Homo sapiens: one gene and its partners. The protein of the gene in region 3 purifies or fractionates together with the protein of the main gene of each other region. This does not show direct contact. Each region holds a gene or a part of one and is shown on either strand. Other genes may lie near its edges.

The links.
Region 1: the proteins of CCNYL1 (region 3) and CAPG purify together in Homo sapiens (affinity purification with mass spectrometry; 2 studies listed by BioGRID and IntAct, with this or other methods). This does not show direct contact.
Region 2: the proteins of CCNYL1 (region 3) and SERPINB2 purify together in Homo sapiens (affinity purification with mass spectrometry; 2 studies listed by BioGRID and IntAct, with this or other methods). This does not show direct contact.

The regions. Positions count from the first base shown.
Region 1 is NC_000002.12:85,407,362-85,414,568, forward strand, and holds the start of CAPG (macrophage-capping protein), read right to left. Parts: upstream 3,006-7,207; 5' UTR 2,956-3,005; intron 2,949-2,955; exon of another isoform or gene 2,921-2,948; intron 2,452-2,920; exon of another isoform or gene 1,200-2,451; intron 1-1,199. UniProt on the Homo sapiens protein: Calcium-sensitive protein which reversibly blocks the barbed ends of actin filaments but does not sever preformed actin filaments. May play an important role in macrophage function.
Region 2 is NC_000018.10:63,897,685-63,904,393, forward strand, and holds the end of SERPINB2 (plasminogen activator inhibitor 2), read left to right. Parts: intron 1-42; coding exon 43-160; intron 161-4,055; coding exon 4,056-4,198; intron 4,199-4,719; coding exon 4,720-4,884; intron 4,885-5,216; coding exon 5,217-5,621; 3' UTR 5,622-6,204; downstream 6,205-6,709. UniProt on the Homo sapiens protein: Inhibits urokinase-type plasminogen activator. The monocyte derived PAI-2 is distinct from the endothelial cell-derived PAI-1.
Region 3 is NC_000002.12:207,742,618-207,749,642, forward strand, and holds part of CCNYL1 (cyclin-Y-like protein 1), read left to right. Parts: intron 1-4,429; coding exon 4,430-4,596; intron 4,597-7,025. UniProt on the Homo sapiens protein: Key regulator of Wnt signaling implicated in various biological processes including male fertility, embryonic neurogenesis and cortex development. Activates the cyclin-dependent kinase CDK16, and promotes sperm maturation.

The DNA of each region.
Region 1 (7,207 bases), about 120 Mb from region 3:
TCCAGAACAGTGTCAAATGCTCACCTGCACATTAGAATCATTTGGGGGCTTTTGAAAAACCCCAGTGCCAGCCAGGCATGGTGGCTCATGCCTGTAATCCCAGCACACTGGGAGACTGAGGTAGGTGGAATGCTTGAGCTTAGGAGTTCAAGACCAGCCTGGGCAACATGGTGAAATCCTGTCTCTACAAAATATACAAAAATTAGCTGGGCGTGGTGGCGCACACCTGTCATCCTAGCTACTTGGGAGGCTGCAGCACAAGAATTGCTTGAACCTGGGAGGTGGAGGTTGCAGTAAGCCGAGATCACACCACTGCACTCCAGCCTGGGTGACAGAGTGAGACTCTGTCTCAAAAAAAAAAAAAAAAAAAAGTAATTTACAGAAAAATAAGAAAGAAAAACCCCAGTGACTAGCTTCCATATTGGACTCATTAAAACCAGACTCTCTAGGTGGAGCCTGGATGTCAGTGTTTGAGAAGCTCCAGATGACTCTAATGCTTGGTCAGGGTTGAAACTCCTGCTGCCTCATTAGATCTCTGTCCCGAGACCTTTTGTTCCAGTCTCTCCTGGGGAAGGGTCCACCCTGACCTCTGGCCTTTCATTCTTTCCCCTATCCCAGCCCTCTGTCCAAGCCCACAGCTCCTTGAGCTTCCTCAGTGTCCATGTTCACCCTTACATCCATTAAAGCCCCCTCATCCTAGGCTGGGCACAGTGGCTCATGCCTGTAATCCCAGAACTTTGGAAGGCTGAGGCGGGTGGATCACTTGAGATTAGGAGTTCAAGACCAGCCTGGCCAACATGGTGAAACTCCATCTCTGCTAAAAATACAAAATTAGCCAGGCATGGTGGTGCGTGCCTGTAGTCCCAGCTACTTAGGAGGCTGAGGCAGGAGAATTGCTGGAACCCGGGAGGCAGAGGTTGCAGTGAGCCGAGATGGCACTACTGCACTCTAGCCTGGGCAACAGAGGAAGAATCTGTCACACACACACACACACACACACACACACACACACACACACAAGCCCCCTTATCCTTCCAGGCCCGTATCAAGCCCCAGCTGTCCAAGGAAACTTCCAGGACATTAAGTGGCCTCCGCCTTCTCTGGGAGTTCTCCCAGCCCTCTCCCCTGGGAGCACATACTTTAGCCTGTTTTATAGCATAAACTGGCTGCTTCACATCTCAACTGGAGCAAGGACACACCTGATGCCTCTGTTCCTCAAGCAGCCCAGCAAAGAGTCTATTCCATTCCACTCAACGTCTGTGCTGGGGGCTTGGCACTGGGGGTGACATGCACAGAGACAAAGAATAGCCCATGTTTTATGGTTTAGCTGCAGGGTGCAGTGAACAAGGGAGCCACCATACCCAGTGAAACCGCAGACGAACTTCCTCTAAGTGGGGAATGTCACAGAATCACAGATGTCAGCATTAGAAAGTGCTAAAGTTGAAGAGGGGAGCTGGGGCCGGGGGGGAGGAATAAAACAAAAAAAAGAAAGCGCTAAAGTTCTTATCTAGTCCTGCTCTGCCTGCACCGCCCTACACATACCCATACACGCATAGTGCAGAAATCTCTTCTATAGCATCCCTTACCATCCTCTTCTTGAAGGCTTCCAGTGATGGGAAACTCACCACCTTACCAAACAGCCTCTTCTACACCTCTTAAAGCCTTTACTTTTCCCCACTCTGCCATAGTGTGGTGAGTTATGGACCCGCCTACCTCCACTACTACACTGTAGGGTCCTTTAGGGCAGGAAGTGTATTTTGCCTCTGGATCTAGCTGGAACCTCATGCAGGTGCTCAAAGAATGCATTTGATTAACTGGACCTGCTGGGCTCTGATTATTAGACTGGGGTGGCACCTAAGGGATAGCCCAGGATTTCAAAAGGCTGGGACAGGCTGGAGCAGCCCCAGGAGGCAGAGAGCAGGGGCTAGGGGTCCCAGACTGCCATGGGGCTGGGGGAGGGGAGGACGCAAGTCCTGCTGGCTGTCCCATGGTCCTGACTTAGGCTGTCTTTGAGGACACACTGGGGGACCTCGGAGAGGAGGTCACCGTTACACACACCTTTAAGGAAAGACTTGACAGCCATCAGAGGGACAAAAATCCTGCCGGGGTCCAGTGGTACCTTTGCCTTCCTCAGACCCTGATTCCACTGACCCCCAATAGGTCTCTTCCCTTCACAGTCCCTGCTTGCCCCTAGGTGTGAAATGAAACAGCACCTCCACTTCTCCTGGTGGAGGTAGGTGCCCACCCTCGAAACCAAACTGAATCTCCCAGCCTGGGACATGGCATTCTCAGAATCTAGGTCCAGAGGCCTCATTTGGGGATTCCAAATGGTTTTTCCCCTGATACCAAATAGGTCTCCTACCCTTCCCCAGGGTCAACCACTTCCTCCCTCCCCACCTCCTACCTCAGACAGTCCACCTAGACCCTCAGCCAAGGTCTTCCAGAGTTTGCAAAATAATCAAATGTGCCACTTGCATTTGAATTCAAATGGCTAGGACTGCCCTGCCCCCTCCCCAAGCCACTCCCACCCAAATAGCATCACACCACAGTCCTGTCTTGGGGACAGGCAGCTTCTAATCTGATTTCACCTCCAGTCTGGCTGAGGGCCTTCAGGAGCAGTGTGGTGGCCTCCGTCAGGAGGTCTGGCACAGCTGGGACAAGCCCTGACCCAAGAGTTCCTCCATGTGCAGCATGGGCACAGCCCACCCATCCTCCCGGGCAGCTTCACAGCTGCCATCAGATCAGGTGCCTGGAGCCTGGCATAAGGCTGGCAGGACAGCAGGCTGGGGGAACTCCACCCTGGCACAATGTGGTATCCAGAAATGTGGGTCTCTGTTCCCAGGCCACCACAGCCAGCCCTCGCCTGCCCACCCAGGAGGGTACCAGCCAGCCGCGCTGGCAGCCACCCTGCCACCTTCACCTTTCAACACTCCTACTTTCCTTTCTTCCTCCTACCTCTGCTTCGTAGGTTCGTCTTCCTTCCAGCCTGCCCCACCCGGCTTCTCACTTCCCTCTTACTTCTCTGGCTGCCCCAACCACCAGCCCCACCCACCAGCCCCACCCCTGGGCTCCTTCCCCAGCCGGTGTGGAGGCGATGTCCCCCGACAGGGAGGGGCAGGCAGTGCTGGGAGGCCAGCAGGCCTGAAGCAGAAGAGCAGTCACTGGGGTGGGCAGTGGGTATGCCAGGCCGTCTCCTCAGAGGGGCACACAGGGAGGCTGGAGGTCCACACAGCCCCACCACAGTGGCCTCAGCCCGCTGCAGGTCACAGCCAAGGCAAATCAGGGAGGGCATCTCTGAGTCTGAGACCAGCAAGGAAAGCCATGTTCTCCATTCAGGGCCTGGGGCAGGCGCGGCACAGCCCCCACCGCTGCTGGGTTAGTCACATTTTCTGGGCAGGGTCACTGGCTTCACATTACTTTTTCCTCCTCCCTCAGTTTGTCTTTCTCCTTGCCCTGAATGCAAGTATTTGATTTTTTTTAAGATCAGTTTTTTGGTTTTTTTTGTTTTTTTTTTTTTCCTGAGACAGGGTTCACTGTCACGCAAGCTGGAGTGCCGTGGCATTATCACCGCTAACCGCAGCCTTGAACTCCTGGGCTCAAGCGATCCTCCTGCCTCAGCCTCCTGAGCAGCTGACACCACAGGCCTGCACCAACATGCCCGACTAATTTTTTTATTTTTTCTGGAGACAGAGTCTTGCTACTCAGGCTGGTCTAGAACTCCTGAACTGAAGCAATCCTCCCACTTTGGCCTCCCAAAGTGCTGGGATTACAGGCGTGGGCTACTGCACCTGGCTAAGCTCAGTTCTCAGGGAATGGCTGAGGCCATAAAACATTCTTCACCATCTTCCGCATGCCATGCTGATGCCTCTCAGGTCTCTACCCTTTGGTCTGCTTCTCATTCACCAGATGTTTATCATCATGACTTCTGGGCCCTGGGCCCTCTGAGAGACAGCCCATCCTGGGTTGACCCAGGGCAACTATCCTGCCTACATCACAGTCACTAGACCCTAGAGCTTGTCTCCTCCAACTCGCTGGCTTTCTGGAGGACACCGAGGTCCTGAGAGCACAAGAGACTGCCCACAAACACACAGGGAGTGGAAGCCCCTGCAAGGGAGGCTCCCATTCCCTTCTGAATCCCTGGGGGAAGGATGAGCGGACTCAGTATGAGGCTCCAGGAGAAAGTGAGCACCCAGTTATGCAGCCACACAAGCGTAGTTCCTCTGCCCAGAACCTAGCCGGCCTGTCCTGGAAAGGTATTGGTCAGCAGGCTGGCTTGAGACAAGGCTCCAGGTTCAGGGTCAAGGCCTGGGGACCCTGGAGCAAAATCTGGAACAAATCTTCCTAATTAGCAGACCTTCAAACAAAACCTCATTATTTGACTGCGTGGGAAAAGTCTGGAGAAAATACAGTACTGGATAGGCTGGGCATGGTGGCTGTCTCCGGTAATCCCAGCACTTTGGGAGACTGAGGCAGGCAGATTACCTGAGGTCAGGAGTTCAAGACCAGCCTGGCCAACATGGTGAAACCCTGTCTCTACTAAAAATACAAAAATTAGCCGGGCATGGTCATGGGTGCCTGTAATCCTAGCTACTGGAGCGACTGAGGCAGAAGAATCACTTGAACCCAGGAGGCGGAGGCTGCAGAGAGCCGAGATGGCGCCACTGCACTCCAGCCTGGGAGACAAAGCAAGACTCCATCTCAAAAAAAAAAAAAGCAATACTGGATGAATGTTTCTCATTGAAACGAAATTGATAAAATTTCACTAGAGCAAGACGGGAAGTTAAATCTTCTCCCCAAAGAACATGGCCTGTAGCTAGCATCCAAGTGTCTCCATGGCCAAACTGCCAGGCTTAAAAATAGGGTAATATGGGCCGGGCGCGGTGGCTCACGCCTGTAATCCCAGCACTTTGGGAGGCCAAGGCGGGTGGATCATGAGGTCAGGAGTTCGAGACCAGCCTGGCCAGCATGGTTAAACCGCCATCTCTACTAAAGACACAAAAAATTAGCCGGGGGTGGTGGCGCATGCCTGTAATCTCAGCTATTCAGGAGGCTGAGGCAGGAGAATCGCTTGAACCCGGGAGGCAGAGGTTGCAGTGAGCCGAGATTGCGCCATTGCACTCCAGCCTGGGTGACTGGGCAAGACTCAGTCTCAAAAAATAATAATAATAACAATAATAATAGGGTAGTTTGGTGGAGGGTGGGAGGAGGGAGAGATTCAGGAAAATAACTAATGGGTACTAGGCTTAATACCGGGGAGACAAAATAATCTGTACAACAAAGCCCCATGACACGAGTTTACCTATATAACAAACATGCACATGTACCCCTGAACTTAAAAGTTTAAAAAAGAAAAAAAAGGATAGTCTGGGTGAGAATCCCAGTAGGGCCTAGTCCCCACAAAACCACAGGCTGGGCGGTTAACCTGGTAGAGTGATAAGAGCTAGACAATTTGGCTCCTTACTAGCTGTGCAAGTGACTTAACCTCCTGGAGCCTCCCTGTGCCCCAATCTGTAACACGTGCATACAGTTAAATGTGAAGATGAAATGAGATCCTATGATTAATGAGCAAATAATACATGCTCGATAAACCCAGACTTCTTTCTCTTCCCTTTAGTTTGCAATGTGCCATCAGCACCTGAGGTAGAAATGTGCCTGGCCACTCCCCTAGCTCCCGGTTTCTCCACAGGAGGAAAGAAAGTTAAACCACAGAGCACTCTCCTATTTCCATCCCCAGCCCCAGCGCTGGAAAGCTTCATAGATTTTGGTCACAACAGCGCATACCTTGGGTGGCTCTTAAGTTCTGGACTCTGTGACCCACGGAGGGAACAAGGATCAATGGGAATCACTGTTCCTCACACTCAGCTGTCTAGGCTAAAGCCTCTCCTATCACCACAGGAAAAAAGGGGAGAGGTTTACACATTAACAGCGAAACAACTGGCTGGGCGCAGTGGCTCACGCCTGTAATCCCAACACTCTGGGAGGCCGTGGCGGGCGGATCACCTGAGGTCAGAAGTTCGAGACCAGCCTGACCAACGTGGCGAAACCCCATCTCTACTAATAATACAAAAATTAGCTGGGCGTGGTGGCGGGCGCCTATAATCTCAGCTACTCGGGAGGCTAAGGCAGGAGAATCGCTTGAACCCGGGAGGCGGAGGTTGCGGTGAGCCGAGATCTCGCCACTGCACTCCAGCCTGGGCAATAAAAACAAAACTCCGTCTCAAAAAACAAACAACAACAACAGCGAAACAAAAGGGCCGGTCGCTCAGCCTAGGACTCTCGGGAGCGGCTAGGAACTCAATGCACATGCTAATGAGTTATCTGGTAACGACGCTCTAGAACTAGTTTTTTTACCAGACGCACAGTGTTCCTACCCTTGTGGTCTCCCCTGAGCACTACTGCTTAGTTTGTCCCAAATGAAGTAAAATAAAGTATTTCTTTAGCACGGACCCACCCTCTCCCGCCTTTTCTTACAGGAAGCCAGGAGACGGCGCGCCCCTAAGAGAGGACCCCGGCTGTGGGAGAAGAGGAGGGAGCGGGGCGCCCCCGAACCGGCTAAGCCCGTTCGACCCCTACATGGGGAGCCCAGGTCCCCGGCGACCGGACCCCGAAGCGCACTACTTGCCTGCCAACGCCTTGCTCCGAGGCCCTGGGCGCTGTCTCAGCCGCCCCCCGCCCCCTGGAGGTGCGCGGCCAGGAGCCGCCCCCGGTGAGTCAGAGGGAGGGGCCCGGCCGGTCTGAGCTGGCGGGGAGCCCCTATGGGAGGCTGGGGCGCCCGAAAGGGTCCTAGAATTGGGCGTGGGAAGGAGGGTATAGGGGAAGCTAAGGACAAGCTTACTGTGCTGTAAACTTTGCGAGAGAATTGCAGTGTTCACTTCCATTCAATCGTTAGGCCCCCGGCCTCAATCACCCTGTGAACAGCTACTGTTCTGTGAGAGCCTACTATGTGCTTGGTGCGTCCTCACATCTACTATCATTATTCCTGCTGGAAACATGAAGTCTTTGGGAGGCTCAGAGAGGGTAACTAACTTGTCCAGAGTGTCACATTGCTAGTTCAGTAGCAGAACTAAGATTTTTTTTTTTTTTTTTGAGACAGGGTCTCACTCTGTCGCGGCACCTGGAGTGCGGTGCTGTGATCACAGCTCACTACAGCCTCAACCTCCCAGGCTCAAGCAATCCTCCAGCCTCAGCCTCCTGAGTAGCTGGGACT
Region 2 (6,709 bases), on a different chromosome or scaffold from region 3:
GTATGTATTTTATGTAGCCTTTGTCATTTTCTTGCTTTAAAGGAATATATTCGACTCTGTCAGAAATATTACTCCTCAGAACCCCAGGCAGTAGACTTCCTAGAATGTGCAGAAGAAGCTAGAAAAAAGATTAATTCCTGGGTCAAGACTCAAACCAAAGGTAAATCCAAGAAAATATTTTATTTACTTCTTTCCAGTTAGAAAACTCTGATCTATCTTTTTCCATCCATGAACTTAGTTAGCCCTCACCCCTTTACAATTTGTCCAACTGCAGTTACTTTGGTGGATGTGAATTTATTCCTGATTAGCTCAGTGGTGTTTTAACTGAGAAGAAATAATTGAGGCCTACTAATAGAAGACATATGTTTAGTACTTAAATATTTGATTTTGGATATTGCTTGAGGATAGAATATGAAAGGAGGCAGAAGCTTTCAAAATAGGAAATATCAGCATTGAAATAATTGTGAGTCTATGCCCACTGTGGACAAAAAGAAAACAAGGCTTGACCCTGAGCTTAGTAAATGGTGTGAGCTATAAAGAATACAGGCAGTGGAGGAGGGAAGAATCATAAAATTATTTTCACTCTTTCTTCTCTTTCACCATTCAAAGCCAATCCATTGTCAAGTTTTTTTGGTCTCTGCTTCATCCCTCCTTGATTATCTAAGTCACGTCTACCATTTTAACTCATGCTTTTAATTGTTTCACAGGCTCCTGCCTCCCTCTGTATATTTTACAATGAATAAATTATTTAATTGAATCATTTATTCATTGTAATTTAGTTTATTAAGTCATTTATTCATTGAATTCATTCATTCATTAAGTTCTATTAAGTTCATTCACTTAGTCAACAAATATTTATCCACCACACACCATATTCCAGAAACTATATGTGGAGATAAAGATAAAAATGGTAAATCCTGCCACCATAGAGCCTATAGAGGAGGGATTCAGTCATGTTGGCAATTGCTATAGAGTAGTAGTCAGTGCTTTCATTGAGAAGTACAGGTGCTATGTGGGAGTACACAGGAAAGGCATCTGACTGGATTTAAAAATGATTAAATTGTAATTGGGAAGACAGGCTGGAGCTGGCCAGGTGGAGGGTGCATGCCTGGGGGGAGATTTCCAGACAGAGTGCACAGAATATGCAAAGGTCCAGAGGTAACCCTAAGGAGAAGAATAGAGTCTGGTCTGACTGCAGTGTGGAGGGCCAAGGGAAGGAGGTGAAATTAAAGAGGTGATGCAGTACACTTATTATGCTATTCCCACACTAAAAACTGTCAGTGACCTCCTACTGTCCTCAGGAGAAGGTCTCATTCTTTACCTTGACTTCTGAGTTCTCAGTAATCCAGTTGACTGTGCTTGGCTACCACTGGCCCTTGGAGCTCCTTAAACACTCATTGCTGCCTCTAGACTTTGTTTCTGAGGATGCCTCAACTACAGGATTTAAGTTGCAGTTTAAATTGCAGCCAAAGTCTTACTCTTTCCTGGAAGTGACTCCCAATTACTTCCTGATCTTTTCTTCTTCTCATCTCCTCATCTGCTTTTTCAGCTTCACAAGTCACATTAGTGTTAGCCATATATGGCCTTAAACAATTATGGAACTGATTTTTGTTAGTTTGTTTTGCTTTTCCTCTCAGGCTCTAATTATTTTTGGGTAGGTCCAGTATGTCACACTTATCCTATGCCCCCACAAAAATTTGCACAGTTTTTTGCTGACAGTGAAAATCCTTCATTCTTCTGAATTTCCAGGTAGAGTTGTAGGCCTTAAGTAAACAATTGCTGAATAATAACATATAAATGTATTTCTAAGAAACAGAGATGATTATGAATTCAGAATTGTGTAAGTATTTCATTCATTTATGATCTGTTAGGATTGAAAATGTCCTAAGAGAGCTCCTATCCATCTTACCAATTTGTGGTTGGAGCATCCTGTTCCCAGGGGATTAGCCGGCTCCCCTAAGATCCCACTGGTAGCGGTAAAGCCAGGGTTGCTTCTTCTTCTGATCCTTAGTCTAACTCCAGAATTCCTCAATCGGATGTTTAAAAATTTTATAACTTATTTTTTTAAGGATTTTCATTTAACTCTTATGTTTAAGACATTGTTTCAAGAAATAGTTTGGTGTCTTGCTTTATTAATTACCACAATGGAAAATGCACATAAACTAAGTGCTATGGGATTTCAAAAAATATATATTTATTTGTTTATCTGAAAATAATTGATTTCCTTTTAGTTCTTCATTTTCATTGTGGATTTGTGAAATACTGTTCTAAAATATTGACAGACCACTGACACAAAGGAAGCAGAGAAAGATGATTTAAATCAAAAGTTCAAGTAAAAATGGAGAGCAAAATTAAAGAGACACATGGAAGTTTTGCCTTCTTTAAAGAATGGCATGAATTGTTTTTCTCTTTAGACATTGTGCTAAATGGCTGTAAGTCAATCAGTTATTTTGCCAAAATGCCAAGCAGCTATTTTGGCAGATTGTTTTACCAGCTTTTGTAAGAATTGGAGAGAATTGTCTGTTTCATCATGCTATGATCAAATACTAGTTTTATCATATACATCACAACATTACTATACCCCAATACTAACCAAAAATTTTAATAGCTTGGGAAATATATTGAATGTATATATTAAATGAATACATTGAAGATGAAACTGATGCAAGGCAGGCAAGCTCCAAAGTGGGGCTTAGCCTTCAAGGGTTCTTGGCTTCACCCAGGAAAGTATTCAAGGGTGAGCTGGAGGTAGGGTAGAAGAAAACAGCTTTATTGAAGTGGCAGTATTACAGCTCCATGATTCCTCCTGCAGAGAAGGGCTACCCCAGGCACTGTGCTGAGAGGCACAGCTCAGGGCAGTTTGGGGGTCATATTTATACCTACTTTTAATTACATGTAGATTAAGGGGCAGTTTACGCAGAAATTTCTAGGGAACGGGGAATAACTTTTGGGTCATCAGGTCATTGCCACAGAAAGAGGTGGTAACTCCAAGGTGTTGCCATCACAATGGTAAACTGACATGGTACACTGCTTCCATCCTGTCCCTGGTCCCCATTTTAGCTAGCCCTCAATTTGGCCTGGTGTCTAAAACCTGCCTCCAGAGTCAGGTCCCACCTCCTACTTCAAAACCACATTGACCTATTAATTTGTTAAGAGTCTTGTATTTGTCAGTAGTTTTGACTGTGGAGGCAGAATTTTTACAAGCTTACCAGCATTGTAACGTTGGGAAGACTGCTAACCTGGTGGTGTCCTTTTGCATAAAATGACACTAATAAAACCCACCTAATAGAGTATCAAAATAATATATTTTGATGCTTGGAATACTGCAGAGCGAGTACTAACTATAAACAAACTGCTTCTTAAACCAATTTCATTTTTTTAAATGACCACACTCATTTGTCATTGTTTCTGTCAATCTTCTCGGGCTTACTCCTTCACTCCCTTCTCTGTATGATCATAGTACTCAATATATTATTTAGCTCAATTACAGAAGTTATCACACAGGGTTTCACAACTGATTTTGAATGTCTCCCCCAGTGTTCTAGGCTCATCCAGGATAATTCTTCCTTTCTCATCTCTTGTATCTGCACTACTCTTAATTTAGGTCTAGTATATTTTTTACAAAACGTTTTTGAATAAATGAGTAAGTCAGATCCTCAGACTATCTAGACCAGATCTAGCAGTACATGATATATTTTGGAAAGGCACTATTATATTCCCTAAGAACCTCTCTTTCACTTCCCTCTGATTTGAATAACTTTCAACTGCCAAGCTTTGAGAAAAGAATATAAAAGGGAGTGAAAATCTCCATTCCAAACTTGATAGGCGGTCTAAATTTTAAATGCATTATTTCTTCATTTTTTCTTGGATTTTGCAAGCTTTTGGGAAATTTGTTTCAATTTTAATTTTGCTTTAAATAAACCTAAAAAACTTTAGCTTGAAGATTAACAACTCTGCAATTTGAAGAATTTAGTTTGATGGCTACTCAGAAGATTCAGTAAGTAATTTCACAGTTCTTGATTATGAAACCTAAATATATGTTATGTTTTCTGTAGGCAAAATCCCAAACTTGTTACCTGAAGGTTCTGTAGATGGGGATACCAGGATGGTCCTGGTGAATGCTGTCTACTTCAAAGGAAAGTGGAAAACTCCATTTGAGAAGAAACTAAATGGGCTTTATCCTTTCCGTGTAAACTCGGTATGAGACAACAAAATACATCTTCCTAGCATATATTTTAGGGCTTTTGACAAGATATAGACAGAAAAATTAGAGACCGCTCATTATAGACTTGCTAGTTAGAAGTTATGCATGTTGGACAGTTGATTGACTCTTTAGAAACAGTATAGGTAAAGGGGAAGACTGTGGCTTTTTAATTATACATGCCCAGACTCCAACGTTGGCTCTACCACTTATTTCAAAGGGCTGTAAATATTGAGACATGGCACGGTTCCTGGCCCATAGTAAGAACTAAACAAGTGTTTTAGAATTATGGTTGTCATTACCATTGTTGTCCATCTTACTAAATAATGGGTATAAAGTTGAACAAGCTAATAACATCAGAGTACCCACTGTAAGGATGTACAAATAATTTATTTTGTTGATTTAAAAAAATCACATTTATCCTACACTAAAGTAGAACCAATCCTCCTTTATGTCTAATTGTAAATCTCTTGATATCTTATAATCGACTTCCATATTTTACCTTTTAATAATATTAGGCTCAGCGCACACCTGTACAGATGATGTACTTGCGTGAAAAGCTAAACATTGGATACATAGAAGACCTAAAGGCTCAGATTCTAGAACTCCCATATGCTGGAGATGTTAGCATGTTCTTGTTGCTTCCAGATGAAATTGCCGATGTGTCCACTGGCTTGGAGCTGGTAAGACATTCAGATATTTAAGTTTCTGGGGCTATACCTACCTTTCGTGAGATGAGATGAATATATACTCCTTACAAATGGTGTGGTAATTTCTCATGGAAATATATGAAACAGTTGATAGTAAATATGGCATGCCTCTACATTTCATTCAAAGCCTTAACTATGTCATACGTGTTACCTTCTTGTAAAAATCTGACCAATCTGTTAACTTTCTATATCACCCACAATATAGTAAAGTCACTGATTTTTAATATTAGACTTAAAGTTGTTTTCCTTCTTTCTAATACTTGCTGTATTTTCTTTTGTTTGTTTTGTTTTGTTTTGCTTTGCAGCTGGAAAGTGAAATAACCTATGACAAACTCAACAAGTGGACCAGCAAAGACAAAATGGCTGAAGATGAAGTTGAGGTATACATACCCCAGTTCAAATTAGAAGAGCATTATGAACTCAGATCCATTCTGAGAAGCATGGGCATGGAGGACGCCTTCAACAAGGGACGGGCCAATTTCTCAGGGATGTCGGAGAGGAATGACCTGTTTCTTTCTGAAGTGTTCCACCAAGCCATGGTGGATGTGAATGAGGAGGGCACTGAAGCAGCCGCTGGCACAGGAGGTGTTATGACAGGGAGAACTGGACATGGAGGCCCACAGTTTGTGGCAGATCATCCTTTTCTTTTTCTTATTATGCATAAGATAACCAACTGCATTTTATTTTTCGGCAGATTTTCCTCACCCTAAAACTAAGCGTGCTGCTTCTGCAAAAGATTTTTGTAGATGAGCTGTGTGCCTCAGAATTGCTATTTCAAATTGCCAAAAATTTAGAGATGTTTTCTACATATTTCTGCTCTTCTGAACAACTTCTGCTACCCACTAAATAAAAACACAGAAATAATTAGACAATTGTCTATTATAACATGACAACCCTATTAATCATTTGGTCTTCTAAAATGGGATCATGCCCATTTAGATTTTCCTTACTATCAGTTTATTTTTATAACATTAACTTTTACTTTGTTATTTATTATTTTATATAATGGTGAGTTTTTAAATTATTGCTCACTGCCTATTTAATGTAGCTAATAAAGTTATAGAAGCAGATGATCTGTTAATTTCCTATCTAATAAATGCCTTTAATTGTTCTCATAATGAAGAATAAGTAGGTATCCCTCCATGCCCTTCTGTAATAAATATCTGGAAAAAACATTAAACAATAGGCAAATATATGTTATGTGCATTTCTAGAAATACATAACACATATATATGTCTGTATCTTATATTCAATTGCAAGTATATAATAAATAAACCTGCTTCCAAACAACAATACATTTGTTGTCATTTCATTAGGTCTGCAGATCATAGACCTTGACTCCTAGGAGTTGAGCATTATGACTCACTTGTGAGAACTCAGAAAAAATAGACAGGATGAAGGAGCCAAGGACATAACAACCTTCATTCAAAAAGACCCAATGTTGAGGGTCAGTGGGATGGGGTTGTATGAAAAATGGGTTAGAGCTGCTTTCTCACAGCAGCAAAGACATAGCAATTCAGAATAGTCTAGGTTAGAGTCCTTTGGGGAAACCACTGTCTAAACATTAAGGACACCAGGATTAATGACCAAGTCCAGTGGTCCAGACACAGAAGAAGGCCTCAGTCATTGAGCTCAGAGTTGCAAGCAGTGAAGATGGGAGATGGGTTGGGTGCAAGAGCAGGAGGGGAAACATAAGATGGCTCTTTCTAAGTGTGTTTGTTTCTAATAGCAGTAATGCTTTTGAATGAGTCAGAGGCAGAGGAGAACATAATTGAAGACCTGAGAAATAAGGCAAATT
Region 3 (7,025 bases):
TGTGTACACATACAAGGCATGGTGGCAGGGCTGGGGGTGATGGGGAGTGGTAACAAAACCATGTGGTTCAGAGCCAGATACTGATTCCAGTGTAGGTCTAAGCCAAGTCCCAGGCTCTATTCCCCAGGTATTTCCGATATGTGTGGTGATTGAGAACTATTGCCCTAAATTCTTTGTTCCTTGGATGATGGGTTTTAATCATCTCTGCCTACCTCTTGTGCCTGCTCGTGATGTTGCCCAGCAATGTGGTACCAGCAATACTTGGACAAAGGCTTTGCTGATTAGCTTACTAAGCTATAGCTGTGTCCTTAACTTTATGTCCTCCATACAGAATTCCTATGGTAAGATTTTATCATTGAATAATAAATCCTATTCAAGTGGTTAGGATTGTTTTACTCCTCCCCACAGCAAACCTATAGAGGAAGGTCAACTGCATGGCCTGGAGGGAAAGAATACTTAGGTCAGTACCTACTCCTTTAGCATCCAATTGGAATTTAGGAGAGAAGGCTTCTGTGCACTTGAATAGAAGCCCCTCAGTGGGTACTGGATCAGACTTAGGCCTTTTCATGGAGCTGTAAGCCATTTGGAACACTTAGCACATACTGTAGAGAAGCAGGAGTGGTGCTTCCAGATGTAGAGAGACAGGTGATACAGGAGAGGAAGCTGTACAGGAAGAGGGGAGTTCATTTTAGATGGTTTAAGCTCTATGTGCCTGTGAGGTAGCAGTGACAGTGTCCAATAATCATTTGAATGTACCGGACTGGAGCATGAATCTGAGCTTAGAGGTAAGGAATGAAGAGTTATAGTAGCTGTTCAAATACAGAGAAAGGTTGCAGAATGAAAGTGGAGAAGCTAGGCATGGTAGTGCACACCTGTAGTCCCTGTTGCTGGGGAGGCTGAGGTGGGAGGATCACTTGAGTGCAGTAGTTTGAGTCCAGCTTGGGCAACATAGCAAGACCCCCATCTCTAAAAAAAGAAAAGAAAGTGGATAGAAGATAGATCTCTAAAGACTGTTAGCATTTTTGAGGGACAAGCTCCCAGATGGAGTGGAAGGAGGAAACCCAGGAGAAGGTAATAAAAGAACAGAGATCAAGATAAGAGAGGCTATGGTCCCAGTGTTAAATGCTGCCAAGAAGTTTCTGATTCTGTAAATATTCACTGGGTGCCTACTCTGTGCCACTATTCTTGTTTTTTGTTTTTGTTTTTGTTTTTGTTTTGTTTTGTTTTAATTTTTTAGTAGAACTAGAGTCTAGCTATGTTGCCCAGGCTGGTCTCAGAACTGACCTCAGGTGATCCTGCCAGAGTGTTGGGATTACAGACGTGAGCTACCAAGTGCTAGAGTAGAGGAGAGGCAGATTGAACAAAGTTCTTGCCTTTATGAGCTTATGTTCTAGTGAGGAAGACATTTTTTCAGGTAGTGGTAAGTAGCAAGAAGATGAAGCAGCATAAAGGGATACAGAGTGACAGGAGGGGCTCACTATTTTAGATAGAATGATCAGGAAGAACCTCTCTAGAGGTGACATTTGAGCAGTGACCTGATCAAAGCAAGAAGGTAAAGAGTGCTGGCATTACAGGCAGCCAGACAAGTGCCAAGACTAGACAGGAACATTTTGTGTGTGTGTGTGTGTGTGTTCAAGGAACAAACAGCAAGGTGTCCCGTGTGGTTGGAGTGAGTTGGAAAGAGTGGAGGAGGTTGAGGTCACATAGGGCCTTTTGGCTTGCAGGCCACAGGAAGGTTTTTTTTGTTTTGTTTTGTTTTGTTTTTGAGATGCGGAGTCTTGCTATGTCACCCAGGCTGTAGTGCAGTGGCTCAATCTTGGCTCACTGCAACCTCCACCTCCCAGGTTCAAGCAATTCTCCCTGCCTCAGCCTCCCGAGTACCTGGGCTTACCAGTGCCCGTCACCACGCCTAATTTTTTTTTTTTTTTTTTAAGTAGAGACCGGGCTTCGCCATGTTGGTCAGGCTAGTCTTGAACTCCCGACCTCAGGTGATCCGCCTACTTCGGCATCCCGAAGTACTGGGATTACAAGTGTGAGCCACTGCGCCTGGCCAGGAAGAAGTTTTTATTCCAGTTTGATGGGTACTTTAGGTAGATTTTGAGCAGGGGAGTGAAGTGCTCTTAAGAAGTTATGCTGATGGCTTGAAGAGAGTAGGCCATAATTGGCAGAATAGAGGCAGAGAAGAGAGTTAAGAAGCAACGAGGGTGATACAGGTGAGCAGTGACAAATGGCAGCTCAGAATCAAAAGCGAGCAGCCTACCAATGAAGGTGGACATAGCAGGAATTGTGCACAGTCTGGTGTGGGATAACTTGAATGTAGGTATTTGGTCTCAGCAACTAGGTGAATGGAAATGCCCTGTACAATATTAGGGAAGACTTGGGGAGTGGAGCAGTGGGATGAAGAGCTCTGGCTTGTAAGTGTGAAGACTCTGGGGACCTTGGCAAGAGGAGTCTCAGGAGAGTGACAGCAGCAAGGGACAAACAGGAGTGGGTTAAGGAGAGATGGGAGATGAGAAGCTGACACCAGGACATGATGCTTTGAGCAAATGAGAGGACACATCCGGGGAGTTGTGGGGAGGGGGATGGGAACAAAGGAAACACGTTGGGGAAAATCTCTGGCAGAGAAGGAGAAAGCCTTCAAAAAGACGCAGTTGCGGGGACAGTGTTCTGCACAAGTGGGAGGGGATCAACTGCACTGATGGAGTTGGCTTTAGTGGGAAGAAAAGAACTCTCACACTGACACAGGAGGGCAAGTGGTATCAGTGAGCATCAGCACATCACCAGCTTACCCGTAAAGGCAACAGGAAGTTGAGGGATTGTCTATGTTGTTTCCCTGTGGTCTAATTATTCCCATTGAGATTTGAACCCTGTTAGGATACTGAGAGTGCAGAATTTGGGGGAAAGGGAACAGAATCTCTCTTAAGAACATGTCATGTTCAATATCCATTTTTGAAAACACAGTCCAGTTTGGAGAACACTGCCAGATCTGATCTGCCTATCTGATAACCTTCAGACAGTAAATAAGCTCTGTTAAAATGAACTTTTTTCAGGCTTGGCACAGTGGCTCACGCCTGTAATCCCAGCACTTTGGGAGGCTGAGGTGGGCAGATCACTTGAGGCCAGGAGTTTGAGACCAGCCTGGCCAACATGGTGAAACCCCGTCTCTACTAAAAATACAAAAATTAGCCAGGCGTGCTGGCGGGTGCTCAGCTACTTGGGAGGCTGAGGCAGGAGAATCGCTTGAACCCAGGGGGCAGAGGTTGCAATGAGCCAAGATTGCATCACTGCACTCCAGCCTAAAAAGATTTCTTTTTGTCTTGATACAGAGTTCAAACAGCATATAGACATACTCTTCCACAGAGAACCCTTTGAGGTAACAGCAAATTACAGCTTACCTCTGAAATCTTTACTCAGCTGTTCACTTTGCTCAGTTCTTTGAAGGATGTTTGGTAGATGTAAAATAATTCATGAAATTGTCTCATAAACTGCTTGGCAGGTTTAGAGGAATACCAGGGGTCCAGAGACATCCTTTTGTCCATCTGTGTTCCTTGTGGAGGCACTGAATACGGGGAATATTTTACAGCCTAAAGACCTGTCATGCTGCTCTGCACAGCAGCCACTGGGTGGCTCTCTTGACCAGCAGTTCTTCAAGCTAGTGCCACAAAAGGGTTAGTTACTGTGAAAAGGAGAAGGTAAAAATGTGCTCAGTATTACTTGGGTTTTACATATTTGAGCATAATATAGCTACCTGTAAAATTACTATCTACCATGCAAGTATGATACATTGTACCTGGTAGGCACTCATTATTTATTGAACAACTCTATTATGGGTGTGGAGGTGATAAGAGTGCCTCTCTTGATGATGCTGTTTGCTGAGATGTCCAGTCATTCCTGTGACTGGGTGGGAAATGTATATGGGCAGAATAGGCAGCAGAGATATCTGACCTACAACTGTGATTTAGTGTCTTGCTTTGGCTGAGTAAGCAAAGTCTCTGTAGAACATAAGAATAAAAGGCACTTATTTTCTGGTCAAAAACAAAAGAAATTTGTCAGTCATGAATTCTTATCAAAGCATTTCGGGGCCGGGCGCGGTGGCTTACGCCTGTAATCCCAACATTTTGGGAGGATCTGGTGGATCACCTGAGATCAGGAGTTCGAGACCAACCTGACCAAAATGGAGAAACCCCGTCTCTACTGAAAATACAAAAATTAGCTGGGCATGGTGGCGCATGCCTGTAATCCCACCTAGTCGGGAGGCCGAGGCAGGAGAATCACTTGAACCTGGGAGGCGGAGGTTCTGTGAGCCGAGATCGCACCATTGCACTACAGCCTGGGCAACAAGAGTGAAACTCCGTCTCAAAAAAAAAAAAAAAGCTTATCAAAGCATTTAAACTGAACTAAAATCAAAGACCAGTGCTCTATTTTACAGGTTTACTTAGAAAGGCTTTTAACTTATGCTGAAATCGACATTTGTCCCACCAACTGGAAAAGGATTGTTCTGGGAGCCATTCTTCTTGCCTCCAAGGTTTGGGACGATCAGGCTGTATGGAATGTGGACTACTGCCAGATCCTCAAGGACATTACAGTTGAGGACATGTGAGTTTGTAAGGTTTTGGTGAACTTTCTAACCATTTTCCAGTATCTTATTCCTATAAAGTTAACAATTTAAGGAATATTTTTAAAGGTTACATTATGCAGATAATGGAAATAGGCATAAGACTATATCTGTCTATCTTTAGTATAACAGTTCACAATAGAGCAAGACTGTCTCAAAAAAAAAAAAACTAACTTCATATTTTCCATCATTACTTGGTAGGTTTTGATGTGTAATAATCTGCTTGATAAATTGAAAAATATTTTTTGGGTGGTTTTTGGCAAAAATCTTACAAGTATACTACCAGAACAACATAGCACAGTAAATATCTTTATTTTATTTTATTTTTTGTTTTGAGACGGAGTCTTGCTCGGTTGCCTAGGCTGGAGTGCAGTGATGCAGTCTCGGCTCACTGCAAGCTCCACCTCCCAGGTTCAAGCGATTCTCCTGCCTCAGCTTCCTGAGTAGCTGGGATTACAGTGGGATTACAGGCATGCGCCACCATGCCTGGCTAATTTTTGTATTTTTAGTAGAGACGAGGTTTCACTGTGTTGGTCAGGCTGGTCTTGAACTCCTGACCTTGTGATTCGCCCGCCTCCGTCTCCCAAAGAGCTGGGATTACAGGCATGAACCACTACGCCTGGCCTCTTTATGGCTTTTAAAAAGTTATCTGCCAGTTCAAGCTCCTTTCTCTTTTTCATTCATTCATTCATTCATTCATTTATATCTTTTCATGTGACCAGTAGGGTATAAACAGCCCTTAAAGGGCATATGTCTGGCCTTTGAAATAATTGTTTGGCCACTATTAGGTCTTAGGGCCTCTGGACTATTGAGAAGTTACGTAGCTTCAACCTGAGTCACACATTGTATATTTGCTTTTGCTAGTCTTTCCACATTTTATCTGAAGGTCTGTTTTTACAGAAGCCTTGAGATATGAAGATCCCTGTGCCCCTGACCCCTCCCCATTAGGAGTGTTTTTTGTATTTAGAAATTGGTCTCCTGAGTTAGGAAGCTCCAGCGTTCCCCTCAGGCGGTCTGAGAAGCACTGCTGGGGCATCATCCAACGCTCACCACACTCGAGAGGCTCCCTGGGCACTCGGACAACCACAGCACCACTTTGGGGGCCTTGAGTTACCTATGAGAGTGCAAGGATCCTTGCTGAGTCATGGAGTTCCTCACAGATGGCACCAATATGACCCTGAAACAGCAGCTTCATCAGGGTTCCTTCCAGGCTGGCCTCGTGTCGGCCGTGAAGGGAAGGGCCTTGGAGCTTGGTAGGCAGGCTGAGCCAGGGAGGCATTTCCAGCAAAGGCTCTCAGGGTGCCCACCAGACAGTGAGAATGGCTTTGTGGGTGGCATTTAGAAAAATATGAAGGAGCACCTCTTGATGATGTTGAGCAGCAGAGGAAGATCAAGGTCATGACAGGCAGTGGCAAGAGTTTGTTTTTATTGCCTTTGCCCATTACTCCATATGACTGTCATTCAGAATTACCATACCATATATTCACAACTGAAGTGAGGATACTTGTGACTAAAAAGGAACCAGTAATTGTGGTAGCTGTTGAAGTGGCTTCTGGTGAAGTTGACCACTTTACTGTTTACCGAACAGCCCTAGTGATATTGCTGGTAGCCGTTTTAGCAAAGGGTGTGACAGCAAATGAATTTGAAACAAATGGAAGTACTTTTGGAAATTGCAGAAACTAAAGTGACTTTGATCACTGCTGTCATCCGTCTGCAAACTGGTTTCTTGAAGGAAGCAAAATTTATTATTATGAACACTTAGCCCTACCATGATGGCAGCTAAAATGTTCTCAAAACCTGCAACTGAACTGACTGGTGCTCTAGTTCAAGATACAGTATCAGAGAACCTGCAGGGAAATGTGCAGGTTTCTACAGATGTAAGCTTCAGGAGCAGTGGTGGCAGGGGCCAGCTCCAAGAAGACCAGTTCTAAATAGTGCTGTTTGTGTATGCCCAGGGAAGCACCAGGAGCTATGCTACAAACAGGCTGCTTTTGTTTATGATCTTTGGAAAGCATTTCAACAAACTGTTTAATATACATTTGTCTCATCCCCCTGCTGTTGACTATTTGTAGTGGTCTCATTTTGAGTCTAAATTGAAACAATTTTAAATTGGTGTCTATCAGGTTTTTCTTAAAAATTTTCAACAGCTACATGTCCTGTTAGAATATATTTCCCTTTAAAAGAATAAGTTAAACTGAGCAGCTGCTATTCAGACGGTTTGCTGTGCCTGTAAAGGGTATGCTATTCAGCCACCTAGCCATTTAAAAAAAAACAAAAAACCTAGAAGATGCATATTCTGTAAGCATAATGCTTTTCTTCAGTGATTAAACCTCTATTAATATGTGTGTTAATCCTATGAAGTACTATATTTCTACACAGTTAAAATGTATTAGTGGAAAAAATATAAAAG